Linked DNA regions of Homo sapiens. The protein of the gene in region 1 interacts with the protein of each later gene in a biochemical or structural test. Each region holds a gene or a part of one and is shown in the gene's direction. Other genes may lie near its edges.

What was found.
Region 2: the proteins of GNG11 (region 1) and GNB4 form a complex in vitro, tested with the Homo sapiens proteins (one study listed by BioGRID).

The regions. Positions count from the first base shown.
Region 1 is NC_000007.14:93,912,645-93,929,303, forward strand, and holds GNG11 (guanine nucleotide-binding protein G(I)/G(S)/G(O) subunit gamma-11 precursor), read left to right. Parts: upstream 1-9,090; 5' UTR 9,091-9,493; coding exon 9,494-9,589; intron 9,590-13,446; coding exon 13,447-13,572; 3' UTR 13,573-15,966; downstream 15,967-16,659. UniProt on the Homo sapiens protein: Guanine nucleotide-binding proteins (G proteins) are involved as a modulator or transducer in various transmembrane signaling systems.
Region 2 is NC_000003.12:179,396,564-179,412,838, reverse strand, and holds part of GNB4 (guanine nucleotide-binding protein subunit beta-4), read left to right. Parts: intron 1-7,432; coding exon 7,433-7,649; intron 7,650-11,519; coding exon 11,520-11,626; 3' UTR 11,627-16,275. UniProt on the Homo sapiens protein: Guanine nucleotide-binding proteins (G proteins) are involved as a modulator or transducer in various transmembrane signaling systems.

The DNA.
Region 1 (16,659 bases):
ATGACATTTAGTTTACCATTGGAGACAGATTCTGAAGCCCAGCAATGTGAAGTTAAAACCCCGACTCTTCCACCTTGTCATTGAGAACTTTGGACAAATGACCAAATGACTTCAACTCTTTGAACATTTTTTTTTTTTTTTGTATAAAACTAGTGATTAGGATAGATTATCTGAATACTTGTAATCCCTTAGATCACAAATGGGTATATAAAAGGAAGCCTAATAAATGTCCTCTATTATTATACTTCCCGTGGACATTTTCCCACCATCTGGAATTTGGTCATACTGATCCCTCCACCTGAAATCTCCCTCCACTCCACCCCACCCCATTTTCAGCCTTTTGAAATCCTACTCTTCTATGAGACTTTCTCTCCCAATCTACCTCAAGAGTATTTTGTGTATCTCTTAAGTCATTTAACATTACTTTACTTTCTCTTATTATAATTTCTATGGTTGTCTTAATTTCAGTGCTGTATTGGAAATTTCCCAAGCCAGAAGATCTGTTCATCTTTGAAACTGTCATATCAACTAACAAATTGTCTGGACAATGAAATTGACTTTAAAAGCAGGCAAGAATAGTGCTTATAAAATGTTTATATTGGATAATTCAGAATTCTTATTGACTTAATTCATGATTAAATCACCAGTAGGGGACAATTCCTGTTGCTTAAAACACAGATTGTCAGCAGGTTTTGAGTAAGAGAGAAATCACAGGAAGGAAGTATAGAGAAAGATGGTCCAGGAAGAAGGAAATGAAATCATGACTGTCCCACAGGCTACAGAGCTATAACTGTCAGTGACTTTGGTTTGTTCAGAATTTGTTATTTCAGGACTGGGATAACTAGGTTAAAGAAAATGAAGTAAGACTACAAGGCAACAAAAACCACTCCCACACAACCTTAACATGTGACTCTTTAACAAAATTTTCTGGTGTCATTAATGAGAATGAGTTATTATAGATACTACAATATATCATTTGAGCTACTTGGACTTTAAACATATTTTGCACACATAGATGAGTGTAAGCTTTAGTAAGAAAAAGAAAAAAGAAAAGAAAACACCTCACTGTTGTTTTAATTTGTACTGGTTTTATTTTAGCCAAATTTTAAAACCAAGCTAATATCAATCTTCCTAAATTACTAAAATATGAGTTAACATGAGGAAAATAGTAAACTGAGTAATGAGAATGATCAATTATGTATGATGGGAGTTAAAGTCTTACAGAAAAAAATGGTGAGGGAAATCTGTTTTTTTATTTTTTATTTTATTTTATTCTTTTGAGACAAGAGTCTCACTCTCTCACGCAGGCTGGAGTGCAGCGGTACGATCTTGACTCACTTGCAACCTCTGCCTCCCTGGTTCAAGTAATTCAGTCCCACCACGCCCGGCTAACTCTTTTTGTATTTTTAGTAAAGAAGAGGTTTTGCCATGTTGGCCAGGCTGGTCTCAAACTCCTAACCTCAAGTGATCCTCCCGCCTCGACCTCCCAAAGTACTGATATTACAGGCCTGAGCCACCACTCCTCACCGGAGAAATCATTCTGATACCATGAATTATAAGTAGTTGCTAAGATACTCAGAGCATCAGACACAGTTCATCTTTTGACTTGGCATTCTCTTCATCTAGAAAAGGAATCTTAGGGTCAGGTGCAGTGGCTCATGCCTGTAATCTCAGCACTTTGGGAGGCCTAAATGGGAGGATCACCTGAGATCAGCAGTTCGAGACCAGCCTGGCCAACATGGTGAACCCTGTCTCTACCAAAACAAAAACAAACTTAAATATACAAAATTAGCTGGGCATGGTGGCGTGTGCCTCTAATTCCAGCTACTCAGGAGGCTGAGGCAGGAGAATCACTTGAACCCAGAAGGTGGAGGATGGAGGTTGCAGTGAGTGGAGATCACGCCATGTATATACTTCTGAGAATTTAGGGATGATGATAAGCCTGGAATTTAATAATTATTCTCTTCCACCTTTACGAGTCACATTTTTGGAATGAGGAAAAAGATTTAATCAGTATGAAATCTGATGACATTCTTGACTTCCGTTGCCAGTTGTGTTCTGATTCCTGGGTCTTGTCTCCTTTGATGTTGGAGGCAGTGTCTACGGGGAATCTTTAGCTGGAGCATGGCCAGCTGTTTTTCCTTTGTCTGGAGATATATCCAGAAGGAGTGGGAAGGGTGCAACTTTCTTCTTTCCTACAAAGTACGTATGCATTGGTGGAAAGCAGAGAGAATCAAACTGAAATTATACGACCTGAAAACTTATTGCAGTAAATAAATTCTTGGCATCTGGAGTATTCTGTTTTAAACCAAATGAGTCATCCGTTTTTCCTTCCCCTTAAGGTATCCAAATGTTGTGAAGAAGAGATTACGTTGAAGAATGATCTGGCAAGGATCCACTGGTAAAGGGCATCCCAGAGGACAAAAATCCCTTCAAAGAGCTCAAAGGAGGCTGTGTGATTTCAAAATACCAAAAAAAAAAGAAAAAAAATTAAACAAATTCTTGGAAATATCTCAAACGTTAACAACAATATGGATTTTTTTCACACATAATGCTACTACTATGCATGTACATGAATTTTTAAATTTATAGATGTAAACTTTTAATAAAAATTGGGGTGTGGTAACCCATCATTCTATGTTTTTCTTAACATAGCTGGCACAGGGTTTAACACATAATTGCCAAAAAAATATTGCTTAAAGTTCTTTAAAAAGAACTATGTTTTATAAATGATTCTATATTATTCTGAGTTGTCAGCATATATTTACTGTTTTATGTTTTTTCACTTCCCTTTCAATACTTATAACTTTCTACCCAGAAATTTTGTGGTTAAATTTCTGTTTTCTTTCCCAAACTTTCTCTTGCTTATGGAATTAGGAAGCTTATTTTTCTGATATGCAGTTCACCTATCTTGTGACTTTTCCCCAGAATGCCAACTGGGTTGAGGGTTCAGTCTGTGGTCACGGAGCACGGTGAATTTAACCAGCAGCAGAATCACGGTTATAAGCATGCACTTAGGAGCCAGACAGTTCTGGCTCTGCCACTTTACTGCCCAACTCACTTTGGATAAGCTACTTAATTCTTTCTAAATTTGTTTCTCCTAGCATAGGATGAAGACAATAATGGTTATATCTTCTGTTTTGTGTAGGGGTTAAGTAATACACTAATGCAACTATAACACTCAGCATATTACCTGGTCCATGGTAAGATACAATAAGTGTTAACTAGTATTATTACTGAGAAAGGATCTAGACAAAATTTCTAAAGTGCTTTAAGAAACATGCTATTTTACCCTATCATCATGAAGACTCAACACCACAGTCTTTTCTTTAACAAGGTGAGCACACATGAGAGAGAAATCTCCATCACCTACATCAGGTCCTTCTGGCATCCTGTTGAGTTTACATGAGTCACATTTCACTACCATTGTGTTAATGACTAAGAGAAAACTTGCCTCTGCTTCTGTAACAAATGACAAGTTGTAATTACCTAAATCAGTAACCACTTTTGTGGTCAGTGTTTTCTTGTTGCTGTCTCACATTTACAGTGCTATTTTGTATACTTCAGTGATCAGAATACTCAGAAATACTAATTGATTGTCACACTTTAAAAAAAAACATTAAAATTATCTATTATTTGGTCTGGAAGGGAGTCTGAAAGTTGTACCAAAGTTTGGCTTCTAGCACAATGCCCTCCCACTCTGATCATCATAAATGCTCAACAAATATCTGTTGACTCTTGTCTAAACTCTTCATTTTGAAATGGAGAAAATAAAGTTTCAGAGAAGTCACCTGACAAATTTCTTCGGTCAAGACTCTGGGCTTCTGGCTGAACAGTCAGCAACACACCCCACCACGTGTCTTCATCAAATGTGCTCTGAGTATTAAGGGATTCTGGGATTAGTTACTGAATGTCTTATCTATTTTTCCTCAAGAAAAGCTTTTTATCCTCCTATTTAAATTTACAAAACCCTCTCCATACAGTCCTCCCAACCTCCACCAAGCGCTTCCTGTCTCTCTCTCTCAGTCTATTTTCCCCCGTAGCACCATCACCACCTGGCATACTACAATTTATTTGTTTATTTAATTGTGGTTTGTCTCTAGAAGTTTTCCACCTGCAAGTTAGTATTTATTTAGTGAAGTGTTCAGTATATCTCCCTTTCTCTGATTAAAATAAATACAAAGTAAGTACATGCTATGGCATTCAGTAACCTGTAGAAGATGGTCCTAACCAACATCTCTAACTTTCAGTTTACCATTGGAGACAAAGTTTGCAGCCCAACAATTCAAAATTAAAACCCTGACTCTTCCACCTTGTCATTGAGAACTTGGACAAATGACGTGAACTTTTTGAATCTGTTTTTTTTTATATATAAAATTAGTGATTAGGCTAGATTATCTGAATACTTATAATCTCTTAGATCAGAAACGGGTACATAGAAAGAAGCCTAACAAATGTCCTCTATTATTATACTTCCCGTGGACATTTTCCCACCACCTGGAATTTGGTCATACTGATCCCTCCACCTGAGATCTCCCTCCACTCCACCCCATTTCAGCCTTTTGAAATCCTACTCTTCTTATGAGACTATCTCTCCCATTCTACCTCAAGAGTATTTTGTGTGTCTCTTAAGTCATTTAACGTTACTTTACTTTTTCTCATTATAATTTCTACGGTTGTTTTAATTTCAGTACTACATTGGAGATTTCCCAAGTCAGAAGCACTGTTCATCTTTGAAAAGTGTCATATCAACTAACAAATTGTCTGGACAATGTAATTGACTTTAAAAGCAGGCAAGAGTGGTGCTTATAAAAGTTTATATTGGATCAAACTTCCTAAATGCCTCAATAATGTGTTTACATGAGGAAAATAGTAAACTAAGTAATGAGAATGATCAGTTATATATGATGGGAGTTAAAGTAATATAGAAACAAAATTGGTAAGAGAAATCATTTATTTTTATTTGTATTTTATTTTATTTTATTTTTTTGAGATGGAGTCTTACTCTCTCGCCCAGGCTGGAGTGCAGTGGTACGATCTTGGCTCACTGCAATCTCTGCCTCCTGGGTTCAAGCAATTTCATGCCACCACACCTGGCTATTTTTTTTTTTTTTTTTTTCAGTAGAGAAGGGATTTCATCATTCTGGCCAGGCTGGTCTCGAACTCTTGACCTCATGTGAGCCTCCTGCCTCAGCCTCCCAAAGTGCTGGGATTACAGGTGAGAGCCACCACTCCCAGCCAGAGAAATCATTTTGATATCCTGAATTATAAGTAGTTGCTAAGATACTCAGAGCATCAGACACAGATCATCCTTTGACTTGGCATTCTCTTCATCTAGAAAAGGAATCTTAGGGCTGGGTGCAGTGGCTCACGCCTGTAATCCCAGCACTTTGGGAGTCCTAGGTGGGAGGATTACCTGAGATCAGGAGTTTGAGACCAGCCTGGCCAACATGGTGAAACCCCGTCTCTACTAAAAAAGAAAAGAAAAAAAGAAAAACAAAATTAGCTGGCTGTGGTGACACACGCCTGTAATCCCAGCTACTCGGGAGGCTGAGGCAGCAGAATCACTTGAACCCGGAAGGCGGAGGTTGCAGTGAGCAGAGATCGCGCCATTGCACTCCAGCCTGGGCAACAAGAGTTAAACTCCTTCCCCTGCCCAAGAAAAAAAAAAAAAAAAGAAAAGGAATCTTAGGTAGGTAGTTACAGGAAACAAATGAGCTCCTGAAAATTGCCTCATGATTGTTTTAACAGATTAAAACAAATATCAAATGAACCAAGAGCGTCTGAAGTGTACTTTCTTTAAAGAAACCATAATTTCAATGGTCAAAACAGTTACTATGCACTTTTTAAATTTATTTATTTATTTATTTATATTTATTTATTTTTTTGTAGAGACCGGGGTCTCGGTATGTTGCCTAGGCTGGTCTCAAACTCCTGAACCTTTGGTCTCAAGTGATCCTCCTGTATCGGCCTCTCAAAGTCACTCTATAAATTTTAGAAGAGCAGACTTTGAAAGGTAACCTAGTTTACTTACACGAAATAAAAAAGCAGAAATAATGTGTTTCTTGCAAAAATCACAAGATAAAATAAGACCAGAATCCTGATCTTTTTTGAGTTCAAGTTAGTATTAGCTCAATTCCAGTTTAACTGCCTTCAATGTTTTATTTTTCTTTATATAGATTTTTAACAACATAACAAATCACAAAAATTGTCAAAACCTTGTTTTTCCTATTTTTGCATACCAAAGTAAAAATTTCATGGTTGTTACTCTTTTATAATTTAAAAGTGAAAATGGTTACTTTTATTTTTATTAACTAATTTCTATAAAACATTTGTGAAACGACAGTGGGCTAATTAATCAAAGTTCATTGCTGGTTGCACCTGTCATTTTTACTAAAGAATGGTTTCTACTCATACTACTTGTAAAATAAATTTTACCGGGGTACTATGTAAAATATAAGTAAAAACCTAACAAAACATTTGGACACAGCTAAACAAATTTTAAAATTTATTTATTCAAAATTTTTGAATATTGCTGATAAACTATTTCTGCAAGTATACATGAGAAATTGCTTAACATGGTTCTTCTCTGGGAGGTAAATTCGGTGTCTAGGCATAGAAGACTACACATCCTTTTGTTTAAAAAAAAATATTCTCATCATTTTACTATTTAAAACCAAACAGGGCCAGGCGCGGTGGCTCACGCCTGTAATCCCAGCACTTTGGGAGGCCGAGGCGGGCGGATCACGAGGTCAGCAGATCGAGACCATCCTGGCTAACACAGCGAAACCCCGTCCCTACTAAAAATACAAAAAAATTAGCTGGGCGTGGTGGTGGGCGCCTGTAGTCCCAGCTACTTGGGAGGCTGAGGCAGGAGAATAACGTGAACCCAGGAGGCGTAGCTTGCAGAGAGCCGAGATCGCGCCACTGCACTCCAGCCTGGGTGACAGAGCAAGACCCCGTCTCAAACAAACAAACAAACAAACAGGAAACCAGCAACAATAAAACCTTTTTCAGAATCCTGTGTGATCATGCAATTTCAACATTTTGCAATTCACTTCAGTTTAATCAATTTACTTAAGATATTAGAATATGAATTATTTAATAACAATAAAAAAGACTAACAAGTATTTTGTTTCTAATACGTCTCATAATACGATGGGAAAAGTTAAAGAACCAATATGGGCTTATAAGTATTTATCCCTCTAAGCAACTAGATGATTTCATGGGAAAGAAACTTCAAAGCCAAAATAATTATATTTTTATGACTTAGAACAAACACACATTAACAAAAAATTAGTCAGGCGTGGTAGCGGGCGCCTGTAGTCCCAGCTCCTCCGGAGGCTCAGGCGGGAGAATGGCGTGAACCCGGGAGGCGGAGCTTGCAGTGAGCGGAGATCGTGCCAGTCACTCCAGCCTGGGCGACAGAGCGAGACTCCGTCTCAAAAAAAAAAAAACAAAAAAACAAAAAAACAAAAAAAAGAACAAAAACACAATAATTTATTTAACCAATTTATTTAACTTAGGTGCTGAACCTATTTAATTTAGGCCACATTCACGTTGATTACTTTCACTAATTTAAGGTATTTTTGACCAACCTTTTAAATTTAAGTAATAGAAAATTTTAAAAATGAATTAGTGCACAAGACAGATATGGACATTTGTCTAGTCTCCCTGCTTATTTACAAGTAAACTTCAGTAGATGCTCTAACTACTCTGAGCTTGGAAAACCCTGGTATTTCAAATATTGAAAGTGAAGCTCTTAAACATTTTCTTTGTGAAAATGATTTATCATATATAGACATACCAACACAATTAGAGACACAACATAGCTTAGCTGATTCACTACTTCCCTGCCTTACTATACATTTTACAAATTAGAAAACCAAAACTAAGAAAAATTAAATGACTTCTTCAGTGATGGCCTGTGGCAGAGCTGCAACTACACGCCAGGAGTATTCATTAAGTGGTTCATTGTTTTTTTCATTCTAATTTATTCATTGAGGTTGAGCGGAGCGTGGTAAGAAACTAGGAACGAACAAAAACTCCTGCTTCCTAAACAGGGAATGGTCATGGGTGTCTTGGGTCAGCTACTCTGAAATATTAAGTTAATATTTCACTTGCCTTTGACTCTGTGAGGCAGGAGGTTATCTCTGGAAAGAAAGAGAAATATCCAACTGCTAGGGAAGGTTTCTTACATTCATGTTTGATTTTTCTTCTACTCTTTTGACCACCATCAACAAGACTTTAGTTACAGTTAAAGGGAAAGTTTTATTGCATGTAAACTTTTTTCACATCGGACACTTTTCCTGGCTTTCCAGAGCAACAGCTAGATAAATAGTGCTTGCCAGAAAGTGGAGAAACTAATACTAAATGAATCCACTGCCTACATCCAGGAAGGTTCAGGAGCCAGGAATTCAAAATCCTTGGTGTCAAGTGTCACCCAAAACTTAGGGTTGGGGAGTGGAGAAAGGCTTTCGGTTAAGAACTCTAAGATTCCTGCTTCTGTCTTCTCTTATATCATCCTTTGATGCACCCCTCTACATAACATTCCCCCGGAAAAATAAAAAAAATACAAACTCTGCTGCTGTTGAGGATGCAGATGATTATTTAATAATAGAAAATGTTCTTGCAACTTGTAAACGATATTCACACCCTGTTGCCCCCTCCTCGCCCAAAATGTATAAACCCATATTAGGCCTCGAACAAGCCGGATGGACACAAATGAGCAGAACACTGGTGGGTATTTCTGGGATTAGGGCTAAGCTTCATTTTCTTTTCAGCCTTTTCTTAAGCGTCCGCATTCTCCACTATGCATTTATTACGTTGGTGCAAAACTAATTGCACCAACCTATATATGTAATTAGAGAAAAGTAATTACTTTTGCAACAACCTATGTATGTAATTAGGGAAAAGCTATATCTAGCATATTTTTAAAACTCTTTGAGAGGTGAAGGGTAGTTATTTCCTGCTGGGTAGTGTACTCCTTTTCCTAGCTTCACAAACAAAACCCGGATGTGACTTGGAAACGGAAAAAAAAAAAGGAGCGGGGGTGCGCGGAGAACACAAAGTAAAACTTCTGCTGTTCCCAGTCCTGCAGCCCCAGCCCAGCCGTCCCCCGCGGGCGTGGCAGGTCCTGAGTCAGGGCCTGTCCGTGGCCAGCATCCCTGCTGGGCGATTGAGCAGCGGGAAGCTGCTTGGACCCAGTCTCAAACTTAACCCTCATCTAGCACCCGGGCAGGCCTCCTGGGTTGCAGGGACTTGAGAAAAGGCAGAGTTCTCAGGTCCTAGGAAGCTGGGGCACGCTGGCGTGACAAGCGTCCCGGAGAAAGCCAAGCCCTCGGGGAGCTGGGGACCGCAGCAGGGCTGCAGTCACATCCTGCGCGGGTGGGCGGCGGGCCAGGCCTTCAGTTGTTTCGGGACGCGCCGAGCTTCGCCGCTCTTCCAGCGGCTCCGCTGCCAGAGCTAGCCCGAGCCCGGTTCTGGGGCGAAAATGCCTGCCCTTCACATCGAAGATTTGCCAGAGAAGGAAAAACTGAAAATGGAAGTTGAGCAGCTTCGCAAAGAAGTGAAGTTGCAGAGACAACAAGTAAGTTGGCTGTTCCGGAATATTTCCTTCTCTGAAATGAAGCAGGGTCCGATTTTTCCTGCTTAGTAACAGTAAAGCAAATAGTTTAGCTTATTTTTCCCCCTTTTTGTAGCTTCTCTTCTCACCACCCTTTGGCAGTGCCTGGGGACTGCCAGCTGATGTGGGGAAATCCTAGGAGGTAGAGGAGGGAGCAAGGATCTGATAAGTAATTTAAGGCCAAATGTCCTAACTTTTAAGATGCCTAGGAAGGGGAAAATAGACAAGAAATCTTGCTTTCCATTAGACAGCTGTTTTTCAAAACTCACTTGTAGGAAAAAAGCGGATAGCTACTTGGTTCTTTGATCTTTTACACTACTAGAAAGGATGATATTTGAAAGAAATTTTCTAAAACCGTATTTTAAAGTCTTACAAGTACATTATTTAATTTTGAATTTCACCAGTGGCCTTCAGTGATATGCAAAGAACAGTCCACCGAAATTTGGGAACAAAATATTAGAATTTCTATATTTATTTGTAAATCTCATCCCTTTATAATTTTCACTTTATGTTTTATTAGTATGCGATTAATACAGTAGTATCTGTACTTATTTATAAATAATTATACATACACTGTGGTGCATATGAAAAATTTTTTTAGTGATCACAATTTTAAAGTTTTAGAGACTATTGATAGAGATTACCATTTCATTGAGAACATATGACCCAGTATTCAATATTCTCCACTGAAACGTCTCGGGAGTTTTATAAGTTTTACTTCAATTTCTTACTGGTCATCAAGACCTTCCTTCAGACACTAATCCCTCTTCCTGTTTTAACTCAATCAGGCATCCTGTAGACTAGGAAAGGTCTTTGAATAGATATTGTTTAAAGATAATTAACCTTTCCTCTTCAGCAAGAAAATTTTGAACTGATCTTATTTATTATGGTTTAGCACTAGAAAAAATTAAGAAAAACAATGGAAATGAAGCGTTATAATATGCTCACTTGCCTTCCTGTTCTAGTTATAATAAATCTGTTAAGGGCAAGAGTCTTCACTGTTGAGTGATGATTAGAAGATGCAGGCATTTTTGTGTTTTACTTTTTACATATTTCTTTTCTCAAATTTAACCTTTCACATCCAAATCCCGGCTCTTCCTAGCTTTTATAATGAGCTGTCCCTTCTATCATGTTAAGGGTTTGTAGCTTTAAAAACACCAACGCGTTTAAAGGGGAAAAAAAGGAAGTTACACTACCCAATCAATAAGCACGCTTCTTGAAACCTTAAGGGACCCATTTTATGGATGGCGAAGTTCCCAGTACAGCAAGTGCTGGCCACTTAGATATGTTCACACAATAAACCTTAGGAGTTACATATTAAACAGAGTTTCATATGCTGAAGTACAGCATTGTCTATGCAAGGTTCTAATATCTTAATATTTGGTATCACTGTGTAGAACTTAGGAAAAAAGACAAGCGTCTTCTACTTACTCAGAGTTTTAAGTTAAGTGATGTGGATGCAACCGACTATGTAAAAATTGACTGTATCATTCATTAGCAGTTTCTCCCTGCTAGCCAGCCTGACCCTTTAGGACACGGCCTGTGGCATCAACTTCCCACCTCCAGAAACCTCAAGTGTATGCCAGAGGGAGAAAAAACTTTGGATATATGTAACCTTAGGAAATACAGAAAGAGGCATCTAAATCTCAACAATAATATTAAGACATTTGATTATACACTTGGAATTATACATTATTATTGCTAGGCAAGCATTGGAATGTTTAGAGATCATTCATCTCCCTCACTTTAAGGATTAAAAAAAACTTGAGTCCCACAAAGGCTAACTAGCTCCACATTTAAGACCACAGAGATAGATAGTGATAGGGCAGGTACTAAAACATTCTTCTTCTCATTCCCAGTCCATTATTCAGTCAATAAATAGTTAACATCTGGGCTACGTGTTCAGTCCTTAACTTAGGCCCAGACAAAACTTGCAAGTTGCATTCTGGCTGTAGTTAAATGTTTATCAAACATGTCCTCTTGATTATGGAAGGAAATGTATCAGAGGAGCAATTACTCACATTTGGAGGTTACAGACCTCTTCTGAAACCTAATGAAAAAACCTTGTAAGAAAAGATTCAATGTAGGGAGCATGTATCTTGCTGAGAAATTAACCTGGGACGACAGACCCTAAATTATGACACGTGCATTATCAACTCTAAAAATTCACTTAAAATGCATGCACTCTGAATGTCAACAAACGAGAGCAAATGTTACCTGAAAGAATTGTATTTGAAAGATTTTATTTTGCCAGATTTTAAGTCACACAACTACATCACCTAGTTTTCAATTTGAGGTCAGAGGCTTCCACACTGATTTGCAGAGGATAATCATTTGGGGTGTGGAAGTAAAATGTTAACATTGCTATTTCTGTTTAGTTTTAAACCTCACCCATTTATAATTTCCAGTTTATGTTTTATAATTTTGCATGATGTATTAACAAAGCAGTGTCTGTACTTATTTGTAGTTAAAAATTATATTCATTTTGGGATACACATGCAAACATGTTTTAGTAGTAACCGTTAAAACAGTTTGAGGTTACTAATTTAGATTACTAATTCAATGGGAACATTTGCCCAGTTTTCATAGGTCTCCATTTAAATTTGCTGGTGCGGCCTGGCGCGGTGTCCCACGCCTGTAATCCCAGCACTTTGGGAGGCCAAGGCGGGCGGATCACGAGGTCAGGAGATCAAGACCATGCTGGCTAACGTGGTGAAACCCCGTCTCTACTAAAAATACAAAAAATTAGCCAGGCGTGGTGGTGGGCGCCTGTAGTCCCAGCTACTTGGGAGGCTGAGGCAGGAGAATGGCTAGAATCCGGGAGGCGGAGCTTGCAGTGAGCCGAGATCCTGCCACTGCACTCCAGCCTGGGCAATAGAGCAAGACTCCATCTCAAAAAGAAATAAATAATTAAATTAAATTAAATTTGCTGGTACTTCTGTAATTTTTACTTTAAATTTCTTACTAGCAATACAGGCCTTCATTAAAACCCTAATTTCTTTTCTTTTGTTTTTATTCTTTTTTTAATTCATTCTTGCAACCTGTCTTTTAAGGATAGATAGACTTTTTGAAGAAACTCTTCTTTTAAGAATAGACTTTTTGAAGACACTATTCAATTTTTTCTCCATCTCAGAAAAAAATTTATTCTCAGATAAGCCTAATAAGTCTCAGATAAGTCTTTTATTATGATCATTGCCCTCATGCAGCAGGAAGAAATTCTGAGGAGCAACACAGAGTGCGATATTTGGACAATTCCAATCTTTCCAGAATCAGGCTTTTTCCAAAGCTTCTATCATTTCGTGAAATTTCAGAACATGGCACACACCCATAAGTGAGAATCGTGGCATTACACACCCCAAAACATTTGGGGATTATCTACTACTGCACCTGCTCACTAGCATGGAAAATTAAAATAAGAGTATATTTCAGTTCCTAAAATATTGTAGACATGGCATAATTGTATTTTAGCAGAGGAAGGAAATCATATGAGACACAATGGAAAAAAACTGCTGGAGATGATTTATTTAATGCAGTGACTTTCAAACATTTTTTAATTTGACCAACGACCAACAGTAAGAAATATATTTTACATAGGTTGCATCATAGGTATAGTAATAGAATAAAAATATTAGAGTGCAGAGCCCAGATTTTATATATGTATTATATATATAATATATACACACACACATGCACATATATATGTAAATGTAAAAAAATGTTTAAAAACTTATTGTATTCAATTATACTTATTTCATTAAGGCGTAGGGACAAAGTTTAAACAACCCTAACCTAATGTATTCTCTTTTTTTTCTATACTTAAGGTGTCTAAATGTTCTGAAGAAATAAAGAACTATATTGAAGAACGTTCTGGAGAGGATCCTCTAGTAAAGGGAATTCCAGAAGACAAGAACCCCTTTAAAGAAAAAGGCAGCTGTGTTATTTCATAAATAACTTGGGAGAAACTGCATCCTAAGTGGAAGAACTAGTTTGTTTTAGTTTTCCCAGATAAAACCAACATGCTTTTTAAGGAAGGAAGAATGAAATTAAAAGGAGACTTTCTTAAGCACCATATAGATAGGGTTATGTATAAAAGCATATGTGCTACTCATCTTTGCTCACTATGCAGTCTTTTTTAAGAGAGCAGAGAGTATCAGATGTACAATTATGGAAATAAGAACATTACTTGAGCATGACACTTCTTTCAGTATATTGCTTGATGCTTCAAATAAAGTTTTGTCTTGGGAAGATGAGTGTTGGTGATTTAAGAAGACACTTTTCATGCATTAACTTTTATATTTCTCCCCGTAATCTTTTGGGTGTGGAGTATGATTGGGTTTGGAATATGATTCAGAAGGTTAGGTGGTTCGACAGATCACATCTCCAAACCCTGCGTCAATGGTTTAGAGTGCTGAGTTCTGACCTCTGGAACGTGTTTGATCTAACCTTAACTATTAAGAAACTGAGCAGGTAGAATTCCTATAACATTGACAGAAGTCAGATTATCTGAGTCAGGAACAAGGCCAAGCCACATCTATGTTAGTACTTCCCTAGTTTATCATCATTTAGATCTTCTTAATAGTGTTCCTGTAGTAGTAGCCTTGAAGAAAATACTGAGTTGGGGTTCAGGAAGAGTGCCCTGCCTCTCTGCCGTGTAGTGGCCAGGCCAGCCCTGGCTTTGAGAGCCAGTACTTATTCCTGCACAGAGCTACATCTCCCATGTGCTCTCCAGGTCTTGGGCATGGCACTACTCCAGTTCTGTGGCATTGGTGCAGACACTTGGACCTCTGCACTCATGCTTGCCAGCATTTTCCAGCAGGCCTGGGCCAAACATGCCTTTTTTTCTTCTCCTCCAAAGGAACCAGTGAATCTTTGCCCACTTTAAAGATTAGTTGGTCTTTTTCTTACTGATTTGTAGGAATTCTTCATATATTCTGGCCATTTATTCGTGTTTGGTGATATGTGTTGCGAATACCTTCTCCCAGTCTGTGGCTTACCTTTTCACAGTGACCTTCCCTTCAGTGGTTTTATCCTGCAGGGCAACACGTCAGAGTATAACTCCTGCTCAAGTTCATAACAAAGGTACCTGAAGCCCAAACCTCACAAAAAGGGACCTTTCTTTCTCACCTTGAGCATTCTCCCGCTTCTTCTCCGTCTTTTGGGTCAAAATTGCTCCAAGTTTGAGCCAAAAGAAAAACGTGGAAAAACCCTTGCTGGTTAGCTCTAGCTCAAATGGACTTAGTCATTAACTTGACCTGCAATTTTCAATGTGGCACCAGAAGCCAATGTTTCTCCTTGACTAGCTCTTTTCTCCCACTTACACATGTAGGTATACCTTACTATCAAGCGAGAGAGGCGCCTGTAACCTGTAGCAGCTTTCTAAAGTATATCAGCATCCTCGTTCTGAAATTCCTTTCCTTTCCCTCTCTGGGAAAGAACAGAATACCCCAGGCTTTTGAAAAATAGTTTACACAGACCAAAAGCAGAAACTATTTCCTTCAGTTTCCTGACACTGTCCAAGTGATGACATCAATTGGCATTACTGAGAGCCCAGGGATAATTTTAGCCCAAAACTACTACTCCTAGGAAGGAGTAGTATGATCTACTACTCTTAGGAAGGATTTAGGAATAGTAAAGGTGTATTTCTTCCAAACAGCATAGAACTATTAGTACTATTAGTCATTTAACATTTAACATGGCATGGGATTTTAGAGCTTTGGTGCCTGTAAAGTTTTACTTCTATTAGCTGTTTCATTTCTTTGCACTTATAAAGTTTTCTTCTGTTGCCTATGAAAGCAAACATTTATTCCGGTTACTGGCAAGGCAGTTTAAATCACCTGCTTCTTTCATGAAAGGCCAAGACAATACATTTATTCCCTAACTTGTTGGGAGTTGCGATTACAAGTCTATATCCTGATTTCTATTAGCACATTCAGCTATCCATTTGTGTACACTCCCAAGTCCTAGCTTTTGCTCTTCATGTCTCTTTCAACCATATGATCAATCAGTTGGACGACTTCTGGTTTTTCCTGAATAAATATCTAATCTTATAGGTGCTTCTATTAAATATAATTCTGTTTCTTTTTCTTACCATTTATCATTATAACCCAGCCAACATGTAGAAGTGCAATAAAAATATTTTAATTTTCAACTGTTCAACTGCTAAAATTATTAGCTTGTAATTAAAAAAGAAAAAATACATCCACTATATATTTAGATATATTGTAAATGTAACCTTTGGTGACTGATAATTTGTTAAGTAGAATTTAAATTATGTATCCAATTTATTCAAAGTGTATAGTTGTGTAATTATTTACTATTTGATTAAAAATAGTTATCATGCATTGTGTAGTGAGACTTAGGTTCTATAAACTCATATAGAATTAGAAAAATCAGGCCGGGCAGGGTGGCTCACGCCTATAATCCCAGCACTTTGGGAAGCTGAGGCAGGCAGATCACGAGGTCAGGAATTTGAGACCACCCTGACCAACATGATGAAACCCCGTCTCTCCTTAAAAATACACAAAAAATTAGCCAGGTGTGGTGGCGCACACATGTAATCCCAGCTACTCAGGAGGCTGAGGCAGGAGAATCACTTGAACCCTGGAGGCGGAGGTTGCAGTTAGCAGAGATCACGCCACTGCACTCCAGCCTGGGTGACAGAGTGAAACTCCATCTCAAAAAAAAAAAAAAAAGAAGAAAGAAAAATTGGGCTTTTCTATTTCTAGGCAGAAGCTACCTTAAAGCTCACCCACACTTGGTATTGTGAGACCAAAATTTTTTGTATGCTAGATGCAAATTAATATCTCACCATTGTCTAAATTTGCATTTCTTTGATTTCCAATGATTTTTAGTCAGTTTTCGTGTGTGTCAATTTTCTCTTTTGAAGATGCCTGTTCTCCTCCTTTGCTGGCAACCACTAATTTGTTCTCCATCTCTATAATTAGGTTACGACTGCTGCATAAATTAAATCATACAGTAGCTATCCTTTTGAGGTTGGCTATTATCATTCAGTATAATTTCTTTGAGGTTCATCC
Region 2 (16,275 bases), on another chromosome or scaffold:
ATTATCATGAGTAAACAAGCAGATCGTGGATGTTCTACCAGTGAATTCAGATGAGAAAAAAGTCTCGTCTTTCTGGGACCAAAGTGAACAACCCAAAGAGAGAACAATAAGGATGAAAAAAGCAGCTGATTAGTGTGGAGTATAGCTTTTGAAGTCAGTGCAACCCGGGACCTAATCTTAGTTCTGCTGCCATTAAGCACCTGTGTGAAACTAGTCATGCTGCTTCATCTTCGTGAACCTCAGATTCTTCAGTTTTTAAAATAGGGATAATACCACCTACATCAGAGAATGGTGTGGAGACTAAATGAAACTAGGTATTAGATGCTCAGTAAATGGTATAAATTATTATTATTATTATTTAGAGACAGGGTCTCATTCCGTTGCCCAGGCTGGAGTACAATGGCATGATCATAGCTCACAGCAGCCTTGAACTCCTGGGCTCAAGTGATCTTCCTGCCTCAGCCTCAGGAGTACTGTGACTACAGGCATACACCACCACACCTGGCTAGTGTTTGTTTGTTTTTTTTAATCTTTGGTAGAGGCAGAGTCTCACTATGTTGCCCAGGCTGCTCTTGAACTCCTGGGCTCAGCGATCCTCCCACCTCAGTCTTCCAAAGTGCTGGGATTACAAGGAGTGAGCTACCATGCCTTGCTGTATCAGTTATTTATAAGCTACTTCGTATTTAAAAAAACTACCTAAACAGAAAACCATAAATAGATTAAGCCAGGTAAAAAGTACTCAGTATATAGGAGGATAAGCTAGTCATAGATATCTGTAAATTAGGGTAAAGTGAAAATAACATTTTGAATGACAATCAAAATGATTATCAAATGGTCAGAATTGAGGGGGAGGGGTGTTAAAAGAAGGTAGGATACTGCTTGAGTTAGGTTACCTAAGCAGATCAGATGCCAAACAGTACAGATATGACTAGAATGTCCAAAAGTACCATAATTGCCAAGGATTTTAATGTTTGAGAAACATTCTAATTTTATAACAAGACATTTTTGGGGAAAAATTAGTAAGCTTTTCTTTATCATACACTTATTGAAAGTCACTTTTTTTACATGATTTTATAGAAAACATCAGAGAAAGTAAATGCTGTGCTAACCCCATCCCCACCTCTTTGCCGTAGGCCAACCTGGTTAGAATAATAGAGTTTTAGAGCAGGCAAAGTTAACCCTCTCTATCTCTCAGCCCATTACTTTTATCAAGTTGAGATGTTCTCTCATAATTTGCTAAAGTCTTTATGAGGAATGAGTGTTGAATTTTTGTCAAATACTTTTTGTCCGTCTGTTGAGATGTTCGTGTGGTTTTTTTTCAGCCACTTAAAATGGTGTGTTTACATTGATTTTCTCCTGTTTTTTTTTTTTTGTCAAAACATTAGTACCATCTTTTACAAATATAAGTAAATATAGAGGCTTCCTTTTGGAATAAAATGATTCAAACAAAGATACTGTATATATAACAGTTTTCCTTTTTTCAGATGAAATTATGACCAACTTCATTATATTTTTATAATATTTTGAAATTCAGTGATGATTTTAACAGTGACATTTCTCACACTGTTTAGAATGTTAGGCTTAGAAATGAAACTATAATAGTTTCATTTGTGGCTGAGCCCCATATATTCACTGAGTGAGTTGCTGAAATTTTCCATTTGGCTCTATATTTGTGGGGCCTCTAGGTGTCTCTCAGCAGTAAAGACACTTAATAATTGTAAACTGTGATTATTAATTTCATTAACTCAGTGCCAGATTCAGTTATTTCTATCATAGATCAAGGCTTTTTTCCTCCCCAGCCCCTACTTTATTAAGGTATAATTGACAAATTGTATATATTTACAGTGTATAATGTGATGTCGTATTAGATATGGGGCTATTTAGGTTATCCATTTCTTTTTGAGTGAACTTTCAAAGATTTTATCTATATCATCTACATTGTCATATTTATTGGCTTACAGCTATTTATTATACTCTCAATTTTTTTGATATCTATAGAGTTTACAGGATATCCTGCTCTCATTTATGATGTTGGTAATTTCTGTTTTACTTTTTTCCTGATAGTCTGGGACTGTGGGTTGAATTGTGCCCATCTAAAATTTATATGTTGAAGTCTTAAAGCCCAGGACCTCAGACCGTGACCTTATTTGAAAATAAGGTTGGTCCAGATATAATTGGTTAAAATGAGGTCATAATGGATTGGGTGACACTAATCCAGCGTGGCTATTGTCCTTATAAAAGGGGGAAGTTTGGAGACAGGCAAGCATAGAGGGAAGATGATGTGAAGAGACACAGGAGAAGACAGTCATCTACAGGACAGTGAGAAGATTACACATCTTTCTGTCACAGTCCTCAGATATCTTGGTTTCAAGTTTCTAGCCTCCAGAACTGTGAGACAATACATTCCTTTTGTTTAAGCCACCCAGCTTGTGGTGCTTTGTTATGGCAGCCTTAGCAATGAACATATCTATCTATCTATCTATCAATCAATAAATAAATCAACTATCTCCTCAGAGAACCAGCTTTTGTTCTGAGTGATACTCTGTTGTTTTTCTGTTTCATTGATCTTTCACTCTCATCTTTATTATTTCTTTTCTACTGCTTACTTGGTGTATTAGTTCGTTCTCACACTGCTATGAAGAAATACCTGATACTGGGTAATTTATAAAGAGAAGAGGTTTAATAGACTCACAGTTCTGCATGGCTGGGGAGGCCTCAGGAAACTTACAATCATGGTGGAAGGCACCTCTCCATAGGGCAGCAGGAGAGAGAATGAGTGCCGAGCGAAGGGGGAAGCCCCTTATAAACCATCAGATCTCGTGAGAACTCACTGTCACAAGAACAGCCTGCAGGGAGACCACTCCCATGATTCAGTTACCTTCCACCGGCTCCCTCACAACACGTGGGGATTTGGGGATTACAATGCAAGATGAGATTTGGGTGGGGAAACAAAGCCAAACTGATCACTCGGATTCACTGGCTTTTCTTTTTCTAGTTTTTTTTTTGTTTTGTTTTTTTGTTTTTTTTTTTGAGACAGAGTCTTGCTCTGTTGCGAGGCTGGAGTGTAGTGGTGCGATCTCGGCTCACTGCAACCTCTGCCTCCCAGTTTCAAGCAATTCTCCTGCCTCAGCCTTCGAAGTAACTGAGACTACAGGCGCACACCACCACGCCCAGCTAATTTTTGAATTTTTAGTAGAGAAGGGGTTTCACCATGTTGGCCAGGATGGTCTCGATCTCTTGACCTCGTGATCTGCCTGCCTCGGCCTCCCAAAGTGCTGGGATTACAGGCGTGAGTCACAGCCCCTGGCCTTTTTTTTTTTGTTTTTGAGATGGAGTTTCTCCCTTGTTGCCCAGGCTGGAGTGCAATGGCGTGATGTTGGCTCACCACAATCTCTGCCTCCCAGGTTCAAGTGATTCTCCTGCCTCAGCCTCCCGAGTACCTGGGATTACAGGCATGAGCCAACACACCCGGCTGATTTTTTTGTATTTTTAGTGGAGACGAGGTTTCTCCATGTGGTCAGGCTGGTCTCGAACTCCCGACCTCAGGTGATCCACCCACCTCGGCCTCCCAAAGTGCTGGGATTACAGGCATGAGCCACTGTGCACAGCCTTTTTTCTAGTTTTTTTAAGATAGAAGCTGATGTCATTGATTTGGAACTTTTTAAAATTTCTAATACTGGAACTTAAAGCCATAATTTTTTTTTTTTTTTTTTACTGGGTTTCACTGTCACCCAGGCTGGAGTGCAGTGGTGCAGTCATGGCTCACTGCAGCCTCGACTTCCCTGGGCCCAAGTAGCTGGGTATACAGGTGCGTGCCACCATGCCTGGCTATTTTGTGTGCGTGTGTGTATTTTTTGCAGAGATAGGGTCTTGCCATGTTGCCCAGGCTGGTCTCGAACTCCTGGGCTGAAGTGATCTTTTGTCTTAGCCTCCCAGAGTGCTCGGATTTCAGGAGTGAGCCACCATGCCTGGCCCTTCTTCATGTTTCTTGTGTTTGGATCTATGAGTTTCTTTTTTTTTTTGAGTTTCTTTCTTTTTCTTTTTTTTGATACTGACTCTCGCTCTGTCACCCAGGCTGGAGTGCAGTTGCATGATCTCGGCTCACTGCAACCTCCACCTCCCGGGTTCAAGCAATTCTCTTGCCTCAGCCTCCTGAGTAGCTGGGACTACAGGTGCACACTACCATGCCCGGCTAATTGTTTGTATTTTTAGTAGAGGCGGGGTTTTATTACATTGGCCAGGCTGGTCTTGAACTCCTGACCTCAGGTGATCTGTCTGCCTCGGCCTCCCAAAATGCTGGGATTAAAGGCGTGAGCCACCGCACCGAGCCCCTAATCAGATTTTTTTTTCTGTCTCCTCTCTTCCTTCCTTTGGAGACTTTAAGTTACATAGACATTAAACCACTTGAAGTTTTCCCAGAGCTCACTCATGTTCTGTTCATCTTATTGTTCAGGATATTTTTCTTTCTGTATTTTACTTTGGATGGGTCCTATTGCTTTGCCTTCATATGTCTTTTCTGTTGTATCTAATCGGCCGTGAACCCATCCAGTGCACTTTTCATCCCAGACGTTGTTGTCCTTGTCTGTTAATTTTATCTTCTGTGACTTTTTCTGTTTTTTTCAACTGATTAATTTTTCTCCTAATTATAGGTCATATTTTCTTGCTTTTTTGCATGTCTGGTGAATTTTTATTAGATACCAGACATTGTGAATTTTACCTTGTTGGATGCTAGATAATTTTATATTCATAAAAATATTATTTAGATTTGCTCTGGGGCATAGCTAAAATCAGACTGGCCAAGTTAAGTTACTTGGAAACTATTTGATCATTATAGGGTTTGCATGTAAGTTTTGTTAGATGGGACCAGAGTCACACCGTGTGTGCTTAATTTTGCCCCACTGGTGAGGCAAAAGACTTAAAACCCCTCTTCTCAAGAAATTACGAGGTTTTTCCGGTGTATAATGAGGTTATTATGAGGTTTTCCCTCTGTCTGGAGGGGATAGGCATTATTTTTGTCCTATGTACACACCAGGGTTTGTTTCCTGTAATCTTTTTGGGTGTCTTTTGCAGCTTGATTAGTTTTCTCACACGGCTCTGCTGATCGGTACTCAGTTGACTACCTAAAGGATGTCCTCAGCATGCCTCTGGAGTTTTCTCTTTGCCAAGCATTGTCCTCTCTGACACTCTCTGTGAACTCTAGCTGCTGTGGACTTCTTGGATTCCCAGTGCTTTCTCCTCAACTCAGGGAGGCCAGTGGGCTCCAGCTGCGTTTCTCTTCCCTTCACCATGACCTTTATAAACTTTCATAGTAAGATGGTAGTAAGGTAGTAAGATGGAGCAGCTGTAGGAATGATCTTATTTATTTATTTACTTACTTATTTTGAGACAGTCTCATTCTGTCACCCAGGCTGGAGTGCAGTGGCATGATCTCGGCTCACTGCAACCTCAGCCTTCTGGGTTCAAGTGATTCTCCTGCCTCAGCCTCCCAGGTAGCTGGGACTACAGGCACCCGCCAACACGCTGTGCTAATTTTTGTATTTTTGGTAGAGACGGGGTTTCACTATGTTGGGCAGGCTGGTCTTGAACTCCTGACCTCAGGTGATCTGCCCACCTCAGTCTCCCAAAGTGCTCGATTACAGGTGTGAGCCACCGTGCCTGGCCTGTTTTATTTATTGTTTCTCAGAGGCACGCTCCTTCGTTGACTGATATCCAATGTTTTTAGAACCATGTTTTATATATTTTTGTCCAGTTGTTTTTAGTTTTTTAAGGCATGGAGCAAATCCAATCACTGTTGCTCCATTTTGGCTGGAAGCAGAAGGATAGCCAAGAAGTAAATTTTTAAAAAATATCTTAGTTGAAGAAAAACATTGAGTAGAAGGTCCAAGGGTCTTATGAAGTACTTTTTAAAAAGTAATTAAAAGAGGGGCCAGGCGCTGTGGCTTATGCCCGTAATCTCAGTACTTTGGGAGGCTGAGGCAGGCAGATCACTTGAGGCCAGGAGTTTGAGACCACCCTGGCCAACATAATGAAACCCCGTCTCTACTAAAAATGCAAAAAAATTAGCCAGGCGTTGTGGTGCATGCCTGTAATCCCAGCTACTGAGGAGACTGAGGCAGGAGAAGCACTTGAACCCAGGAGGCAGAAGTTGTAGTGAGCTGAGATTGTACCACTGCACTCCAGCCTGGGTGACAGAGCAAGACTCTGTCTCAAAAATAACAAAAAAAAGTAATTAAAAGAAACCAACACATCCTGTTGAATTTAAGAGTATCAAAAGATGGGAGAAAATTCAAGATGAAAACGCAGATTACCTAGATATAAAAGATTAAAAACCAAGCTAACCTCACACTTTTTCACAATAGACACTGCTGAAAGGCTCCTGAACAGTATCTGCCAAGTGTTAAGGGAGAAATACTGTGACCCAATAATTTTAAGTATCAGAGATCATAGTCATGATGTGGGGAGGAAATACACTACATATAATACAGGATAAGAGATTAAGACCAAGAATAATCACTTAAGGCATTACACGTAAATGATTACTGCTATTAAAAGATACAGAATAAACTGAACTATAATGTTGTATGCAAGAAACACACCTAAAACAAAATGACCCAGGAAGGCTAAATGTAACAGTAAGAGAGTGGGTAAGTCATAAACTGGAAGGAAATCTGTAGTAATATTACTATATTACTATTAACCGAAGTAGAATTGGAGCAAAAACTATAAGATGAGAGAAGTTTTATCTTAATGAAAGGGACAGTAGTGATGCTATAACATTGAAATTCATAAAACAAAAGCCATTAAAAATTCAAGGACCCAAAACACCATTGTGTAGGAGACTTTAGTAGACAACTTGGAAATACTGATATCTTAAGAAGGCACGAAATAAGATGCTGAGGATTTGAATAGTGTTATTTAATAATGTTGACTTGAGAGTATATTGTAAATTGCACCATATTTGGGTTTTACCAAATACACAGTATATTACCTTTCTAAAATCTGAAAAATTCTGAATTCTGAAAAAGAACTGTCCCGAGGGGTCCTTATAACCCTATAAGGATTGTGGACCTTTTATCTCCTTGCCATTCGTTCTACAACAGCCACACACACACACATATATATTCTATAAATATTAGTACTTGCTTTAAATGTTTCAACATGACATATGGAGAACCAGAGCCAGTATTTGTTGAATACTTGCTGTGTTCTGAACAATGGGCTGTGTACTTTGCATATGTTATTTAATTCAGTCTTAATCACCACTTTGAAATGGAATCTGAGGCTCAAAATATTTAAGAATCTTTAGTGCCCAACATCGCTCACCTGGTAGGTAGCCAAGTTGGAATATTAATCTAGATTTGTCTATTATTACATTGCCTCCTATGATTGTGCATACATCTGTAGAATAAATGTTTGTTACTTTCCTGTCTAGTTTTTCCCAAATGGATATGCCTTCGCCACTGGCTCTGATGATGCCACTTGCCGGCTCTTTGACCTTCGTGCAGATCAAGAGTTATTATTGTATTCTCATGACAATATCATCTGTGGAATCACTTCTGTAGCCTTCTCAAAAAGTGGGCGTCTCTTGTTGGCTGGTTACGATGACTTTAATTGTAATGTATGGGACACGCTAAAAGGAGATCGTGCAGGTTAGTAAATAAGTCCACATTAGGTTCTGATTTTCAGGAAGCGTGAAGAGGTTCCCATCAGTTGTGTTCTAGGCCTCCATGGACATCTTGGAGTTGTGGAAAGTGGTAACCCGATGGTTCTCATCATGTTCTTTGTTGTTACCTTTTGTTTGTGGTTATAATCCATAAGCCATATTTACACTTTTGCTTTCTGAAGAATCACACTGAGGTCTGTAATATTTTCTTATTTGGTAGACTTCAGAATTAAAGATGGATAGTGAATGTGATTCAGTGTGGTCTTTTAGAAATCACACTTTTCTTATCACCTGACAGGAAACATTGTAACTGCTGGTTTTCTTCCTTCTGAAGCAGATCTTGTATGGGACAGGACATAGACCTGTCGCTTCCCTTAGCCCCATACCCTGAGTCCTCCTCTGCAGCTTCTACAAGATGACAATACACATTAAGCCATACTGGGGACTGTCATTAATAACAAGTCATACAGAGTAATTTTTAGCTATTTTTAAAAATCAAAATTATACTTAAAGGAATCCAGTTGTCCTATATAGCTTGTTACCAAAACACAGCAGTTGCTTCATCCCCAACCCATAGTTTCTGCTCCCCAAAGTAACTACATTTAGTAATTTACCTACCCCTCCTCTCTCCCCGCCCCCTTTGTTTTGTTTTGTTGGGACAGGGTCTCTTTATGTTGCTAAGGTTGGTTTCTTCCCGCCTCAGCCTCTGGAGTAGCTGGGATTACAGGCTTGAATCACCTCACCTGGCTTACTTACATATCTCTAAATAACATGCCTGTATTGCTGTTACTTGTTTAAAAAAATAAAAATTCAGGTGTTATCTGTTGTTGACCTATTATCATGGATGAGAAGGGTTGGGTTTTAAGCTGCTCCTGCCGTAGCCATGTTCTTCCCAACCAGTTTTTCCCATATGATAGATTTTGTTTAGAACCACATTCACTGTTTACATAATTCCGACTTTTTAAAAAGTCATTTGCTGCTGAGCCATGAGATGTGTTATGACTTCTTTTGCCATGCAGCTTTTTTGTATTTTCTAGAGTTAATTTTTTGGTTTATATTCTTAGTTTCTATGTGCTTCTCACTAATGAATCTTCACACTTTATGCCAGTTTTGATGTGTCTCGGAGCGGATCCATTTTCGTTCATTGTGCTGGGTATTTAGTGAGCCTTTTTGATCCGGAAACTCATTACCCTATAGAACAGGGACATTTGGGGGTGGGGGCTTGTTGAATTTTATTTCTTCTCTATTATCATCATTCCCTTTTTCTAGATCTCCCATTATGTTGAAAATGGGCTTCCTGGACTGATCCTTTTGACTTTTTTTGTTTTTTAAGAATTTTTATTTTACTTAACTTTATTTTATTTTATTTTATTTTTTTGAGACGGAGTCTTGCTCTGTTGCCCAGGCTGGAGTGCAGTGGCATGATCTTGGCTCACTGCAGCCTCTGCCTCCCAGGTTCCAGCGATTCTCCTGCCTCAGCCTCCCGAGTAGACTAGCTGGGATTACAAGTGCACACCACCACGCCCAGCTAATTTTTGTATTTTCAGTAGAGGTGGAGTTTCACCATGTTGGTCAGGCTGGTCTCGAACTCCTGACCTCAGGTGATCTGCCCACCTCAGCCTCCCAAAGTGCTGGGATTACAGGCGTGAGCCACTGCGCCCGGCCTGACTTTTTAATTATATTTTTTATTTTCCATCTTTTTTGCTTTATCTTCTGGGAGGAAACCTCACCTCAGGTTTCCACCCTTCTGTTAAGTTTTGGTTTTCATTTTCGCTACCATCTTTTTAACTTAAGAGCTATTATTAGTGAAAGAATTTTTTTTTTAAGTTTCTTCTTCAAGCATCATCTTTTGTGTTTCCAAGTTTTTTTTTTCTTCATTTTTGGGGTTTCCTGTCTTTATTTTTAGAATATTTCCTTAAAAGTGTTAATTCTTATTCATACTTAAGAGCGAGGCACTAAAACCATTTGAAGCTCTGGGCACGTGGCTGGTGTGCTGACTCGGCCTCCATTTACTCTAGGCTGGCCGTTCACTGAGGAAGCTTTGCTGTGTCTGCCTTTCTGCCTTTCTTCCTTTTTCCATCTTCCACTTTCCTCCATGAAGTGTATAAACTGGCTGCCAGTTTGAGGGCTGATTTCAAGAGAAAACCTGAGGGACCACAACATTTAGCTAGTAAACTTTATTCCCCATTTCAGCACAGTTTTATCAATCGCATCTGTGCCTGTTTTCTTCCAGTCAGGAGACCCTGTTTTACCCTTTCCTCTGAGTGAGTCTCTGGCCTTACGCCACAGCGCAGGATGATCTGTCACCTGACTGCAGAGTGGAGGAAGGGGACACCTGGGGGCTCTTACTGATTGATGAACACTTTCCAGCACAATCTTATTTTACTCTGCCTTTGCCCCTACCTGTTCCAGAGATACCTGGTTCTACCTAGTAGGGACACTTTTGGAGAATCTGCAGTGTAATTTTGTTACTTGGCTTACTATTCATTTTGAACTCAGTATTTTGGGGTTCATTAACACAGTTGCCACCATCCAGCTTACGAAAGTTCGTTGCCATTGCCTGCTCTCATCTCACTGTCCTTGTGGATTTATGTCCTTACCCTTTTAACCCCCGCTATGCAGTTGTTGGGGTTCCTGAGGGAGCAGAGGCAGTGTAAGTTTTTTCCAGGAATAATTTTCTACAACCTCTTTCAAGAGACTGCATGGTTTGCAGTTTTACACTTTGCAAGTAGATTCCTGGAAGTATTCCGTTGCTTAAGGCCAATTACCTTTTAAAGATATTTGGTGTTTTGCCTGGATTGAAACAATTAGTATCCATAACAAAATAAAAATGTGCTTGTTGTCCACACTTATATGCTTGAGGTTTAGTTTTGCTTTGCCTACAAGCTGGTTTCAGGTTGGCTCAACTGGAACTTTGAACTTAAAATTGGATCCTGACTTGTGAATTGCTAATTCATTTCCCTCTCCAGTGTGACTTAAAGTATTTAGCCACAATGTTCATTTTTTTTGTTATTTCAACTCATAATGGTAAATTTTCCCATTGCCAAACATGGCCATACTGGAGATACTATAGAGAATATTAAGAGTTACAAGATGAACTTCTGTTCCTGATTGATCGAAAATGATATGCTTAAGAATAGAGAGAGAGAATGCAAATTCAAACACTGTATTTAAAAATTTTGAGCATTTGATGTATTCTAATTTTTCTTATTAATCTTACTGTATTTCTTGTTTTCTTCCAAAATACTGGAAATACATCAAATGAGTTTAATGTGTGAAAGAAATGAAAACTAGATGAGTTTCATGGTTTCAGAAAGTTATAACCAATAACATTCCAGAGTTTGGTGATTAGCATAAGAAAGTAAATGAATTATGTTGGTATTCTTGGAAGCAGTGATGTGAGGCAGCTTTGTTCTTACGTTTTTGTCGTTCCTGTGGTGAAGGGCTCCTTCAGTGAACTTCATTGAAAATCTTGTTTTTGTTGAGAATAGCATACATAGCTCAGTAGCAAAATTTGGAATATCGAGAACTTATTAGAGATGTGGAATAATTGTCTGCATATGTTTTCCTAGATATAAGTTGAATTATAAGATGATTTTTCAAAAATTAAAACCACAAATTGATGCATGTCAAAATTCAAATAATCCAAATTTATAAATACATCCAGCTTACTCCTAACTTGTCTTCTTACTCAGAGAAATTTGTTGTTTTCTTTTAAATTATTATTATTTTTTAACTGATGAACTTTCAAGAAAACTGGACTGATAGTTTATAAGCACCCTTTTAAATCTCTGCATATACTTGTTTAATTCTAAAACCCTACAATTGCCAATTTTTTACTGAATTTTTTTTTCAGGTGTCCTTGCTGGTCATGACAACCGTGTGAGCTGCTTAGGTGTAACTGATGATGGCATGGCTGTGGCAACAGGCTCTTGGGACAGTTTTCTTAGAATCTGGAATTAACAGTGTCATACATATTTGTTCTCCATTGATATATCTGGAGAAATCAATGCTACAGCCTATAGCTGTGAAAAAATTCTACCTTATATTTGCAGGTGAAGATTTTTCTATTAGATTATCTACAAAAACAAGCTTTCAGTAAACTACCAAAAAAAAAGTGGGGGTGGAGGAAAAAAGGCAAAGGCGCCTTCTGAGATCAAAAGGACCAGTGTATTAATTTGAGGGGTTGGGTTATTTTAACCTTGGTGAATTGTTGTGTGTACTCAGAGTGTATTTTCTTTGTGTAGAACAGAATGTACACATTATAGCAGCTCGCCATTGTGTTTGCATTTTTTAAGAAGTACATTTTTAACTTTGTATACACAAGAAATGTCATATTTTTGAGTTTTGTAATGGAAGAACCAGGCACAGAAACAGACAGAAATGATACTGTATGTGTGTGTATTTATGTCTGAAGAAAGTCCCCTTGAATTCTGATATCTCTTTGAATCTAAGAGATCCTGATAGCTTCATGTTTAAGAGCATTGACAGGTGGGGCACCTCTGAGGGGAGTTCATTGTTTCTCATGCATCATTTGCCATATACTATTAATCAAAGTGCTTGCTTTCAGTCCTTTGAGGGGACAGATAATCTGAAGGCCAGAGATTAGAGATTTCACTGATATTTTGGACATACATAAGAAACATCATTATAATTAATAAAAAGTAGGTAATAGCATATAAATGGTTCTTGACATTTTAAAAGCCTGGTTATGATCAGTTGACACTTTGAGTACCCCCCTAAATAGCTGGACTTTCCTTTTCATTTCATATTTGGAACTAAGTTTGTAGCGTATACTCATCTTTCAGAAGTTTGGTAAACATTGGGATTGTCCCTGCATCTGAACATCTTTCCCAGTGCTATCAGTATACATCTAGAGAGGAAATGCAATGTGACAGTGTTACATTTGGAGAGAAGTGTGAAATCTAACCAATCGCTAGCACATATTTGTTGTAATACGGTGGTTTATTTCATGTTTGCATACTATAAAATCTGAATTGATGTGAAATATCTGTGCCTTTAAATTTCTTAAACCTTTAAGCTTTTTGTTCTGTTTTGCAACATTTTGTAGTATTTCTTCCCTTCCTTAGCACAAAATACTGGTTTCTAAGTGGTTTTGCTTCAAAGGATGTCTAGATGTAAGTGATTCCACTTAAAGCCAAAATAAAAATTCCTAAAGCAGTTCTTAAAGGAGTTAGAGAGCTATATTAAACAGTTTTTCTGTGGTATAATAATGTGTCTCTTACTAGAAGTCCCCCACGACCAAGTTAAAGATACTTTTCCTGTTGGATTCTCTTTTACAAATAAGTCTAAATGACTGATAATAGAAGATTGTTAGTCTTGCTTGATGGTAAAGTCTTGGATTATTCTGATATATAGACGTGCATTGTTTTGTAACTTAGTTACTTTTCAGATAGGTCTGTGTTAACTTTTGAACATGTGTAACTTAACCTAAATACTCCCAAACTTTACCTCTAAATTTTTGTTTTTATGTTGTGAATGTGCTAATATGTGCATCAACTGTAAAGATGTATCAGTTTTATTAAAATCAGTTGACAATTAGAATAATAAAGTGGATAAAGGCAAATTAAGATATAGGACCAAAACAGAATATTGTAGATGGCAGTTATGAATGTATATTTATATTTTGATTAAGATTTCTATTAACTTTTTGGCTGGGCAGAGTGGCTTACACCTATAATCCCAGCAATTTGGGAGGCCAAGGTGGGCAGATCACTTGAGGTCAGGAGTTCGCGACCAGCCTACCCAACATGGTGAAACCCCATCTCTTCTAAAAATACAAACATTAGCCGGGCGTGGTGGCACATTCCTGTAATCCCAGCTACTCGGGAGGCTGAGGCAGGAGATTCGCCTGAACCCGGGAGGCAGAGGTTGCAGTGAGCCGAGATTGTGCCACTGCACTCCAGCCTAGGCGACAGAGTGAGACTCCATCTCAAATTGGAAAAAAAAAAAATTATATGAACTTTTGCTATTAATGTTTATTTGTAGGCTATTTATATCACTTCATAAAGAACAGTTCTTTGAGAAAAGAATAAAGGAATGTATTCATTTCCAGAAAAAGAGGGTTGGGGAAAGTTTGCCATGTAGGTTAGTCAGAAGAAAGCAATTCTATTATGCATAAAAATAACCTTAAATATGTAAGAGAGTATCTCCTCTACTTAAAAGTTATTATAGTAGTCACAGGCATACAGACCACAGGAATTCTATGGTCTTAACATATTTTAAAATTACATTTATTTTAATGTTCTTAAAGTTTATGAAGAGGAGTTTAAAGCAATTCCCATAATTAAATATTTACTCGGCAACTAAAAACTATTTAACACTTGTGGTTAATTATACACATAAACAAATGGCGACAGAGTAGCCTCACTACCACAATTACTTCATGGTTACACCTTTGCTTTCTAATAATAGGGGCTCCAGTTGCTAAATATATTTGTTTACTTACAGTTTAAGTTGAGCTGATTGTTGAATTCTGTTATTGTTCCTGAATTCAATGAGTATATAATTTGTAGAGATGTTGAATAGTTTGGATCTTAGTTTTTAAGGCTGAAAAATCTGGCTGGATTTAGTTTTTAAAAATTTGCATCATCAAGAATATTGCAGTTAATGTTCCTTTTTTTTTTTTTTTAAAGACAGAGTCTCACTCTGTCACCCAGGCTGGAGTGTACAGTGGTGTGATTTTGGCTCATTGCAACCTCAACCTCTGCCTCCTGGGTTCAAGCAATTCTTGTGCCTCAGCCTCCCAAGTAGCTGGGACTATAGGCATGTGCCACCATGCCCGGCTAATTTTTGTATTTTTAGTAGAGATGGGGTTTCACCATCTTGGCCAGTCTGATCTCGTACTCCTGGCCTCAAGTGATCCACCAGCCTCAGCCTCCCAAAGTGCTGGGATTACAGACGTGAGCCACCGTGCCCAGCCAGGTTTCCTTCTTTACCTTCTAAGAAACATTTAAACATAATGTGCCTGAGAAGGTTAATTTGTTGACTCTGTAGCATGTCAAGAAGAGTAGTTTTTTGAGATCTGGCAAGAATATTTTAGAGATACATATTCTTTTCTAAGTATGTTATCACCCTGTGGTGTTGAGCATATCGTCCCAAAAACCTGCTTCAGCAAGCAGTTCTTGGCCAGGCATGGTGGCTCACACCTGTAATCCCAGCACTTTGGGAGGCCGAGGCAGGTGGATCACGAGGTCAGGAGTTCAAGACCAGCCTGGCCAAGATGGTGAAACCCCATCTCTACTAAAAATACAAAAATTAGCCGGGCGTGGAGGTGGGCGCCTGTCAGCTACTCGTGAGGCTGAGGCAGAGAATTACTTGAACTCAGGAGGTGGAGGTTTTGGTGAGCTGAGATGGCGCCACTGCACTCCAACCCGAGCGACAGAGCAAGATTCCGTCCCAAAAAGAAAAAGCAGTTTTTGCCATCAGCAAGGATATCTCCTCCACTTTAATGGACAGGCCTCATTTTTGGCAGCTATGCTGTTTGAGATGTAGACTGAATATCCAAGGTTCCTCCCTAGCTCAAGTTTTTACTTGTGATTACACACACCACATTGAATTCCGTCTTCAGAGGCAAAGATTTGGGCTTCATATCTCAACAGCAAAAGGGCCTGTTCAGCAATTCCCTTCATTTTAGACTCATATGACCTCAGCGATTGCATGATAGTAGTAAACTAGTCTCCTGGAAATAATGGATGTAGGTGCTTCTAGAATATGTTACAGAATTTCAGACTTAACCTATTAATAGATAAATGGATCTTGACTTAAGGTGACAAAATGAAACTTTTATTATTGCTTAAAAATGCTGTGCCAATATTGTATAACTAGCTCCTCTAATACTTTTGGTATTTTGGATTTAATAATAAGACCTTAAGCATTTTAAATGTGAACATGTTCAGGGAAGTATGCTTTGATGTAAATGTCTCAGATCTAAGTTGTAACACAATTGAATACTTGTGGCTTATTCTTGGTTTAACTTAGGAAAACTGGTTAAACAATCCCCCATTTGGGCCTGTCATCATTTTAATAGTGACGATGTTCTTTCTGAAATCTTCAGGGTCGGAGTCAGGCTGAATTTTTTTAAAAATTAAATATTATGTTCAAATTCTTTCCTTTTTGCCATTGTGAAAAAGCAAAATTTTAAATGATTTCTCCTGTTAGAATTTTTAAAAATACCCACAGGTTGGACCATCTTTCTTATGGGTTGCACAATGAATTTATATTTTAAATTAGATTAAGTAGAATGTGAAGTACATTTCAGATTTACTAGTTTTCTTTCCATTGTTCATTTTGGGTTGCCTCAGATTCAGTGTATATTTTAAAATATTGGTTACATAATAGGTACTCAATGAAATGGTTTATAGTAGAATATCTAAGCTAGCACTTTATTTTAAAAAGTAACTTATTAATTAATCACACATTGATGGTACACCTTGTATTTAGCAAATGTTTGCATGTTGATAAAATCTCCTATGTCTTCTTTCTTAAATCCAGTTGCTGATTTTGTAAAATACAGTTGTGATAAAGCAGCATTACGGGGGGGAAAAAGCTATATTCCAACTGGTGTTAAATGTATTCAACAAAATCTTACA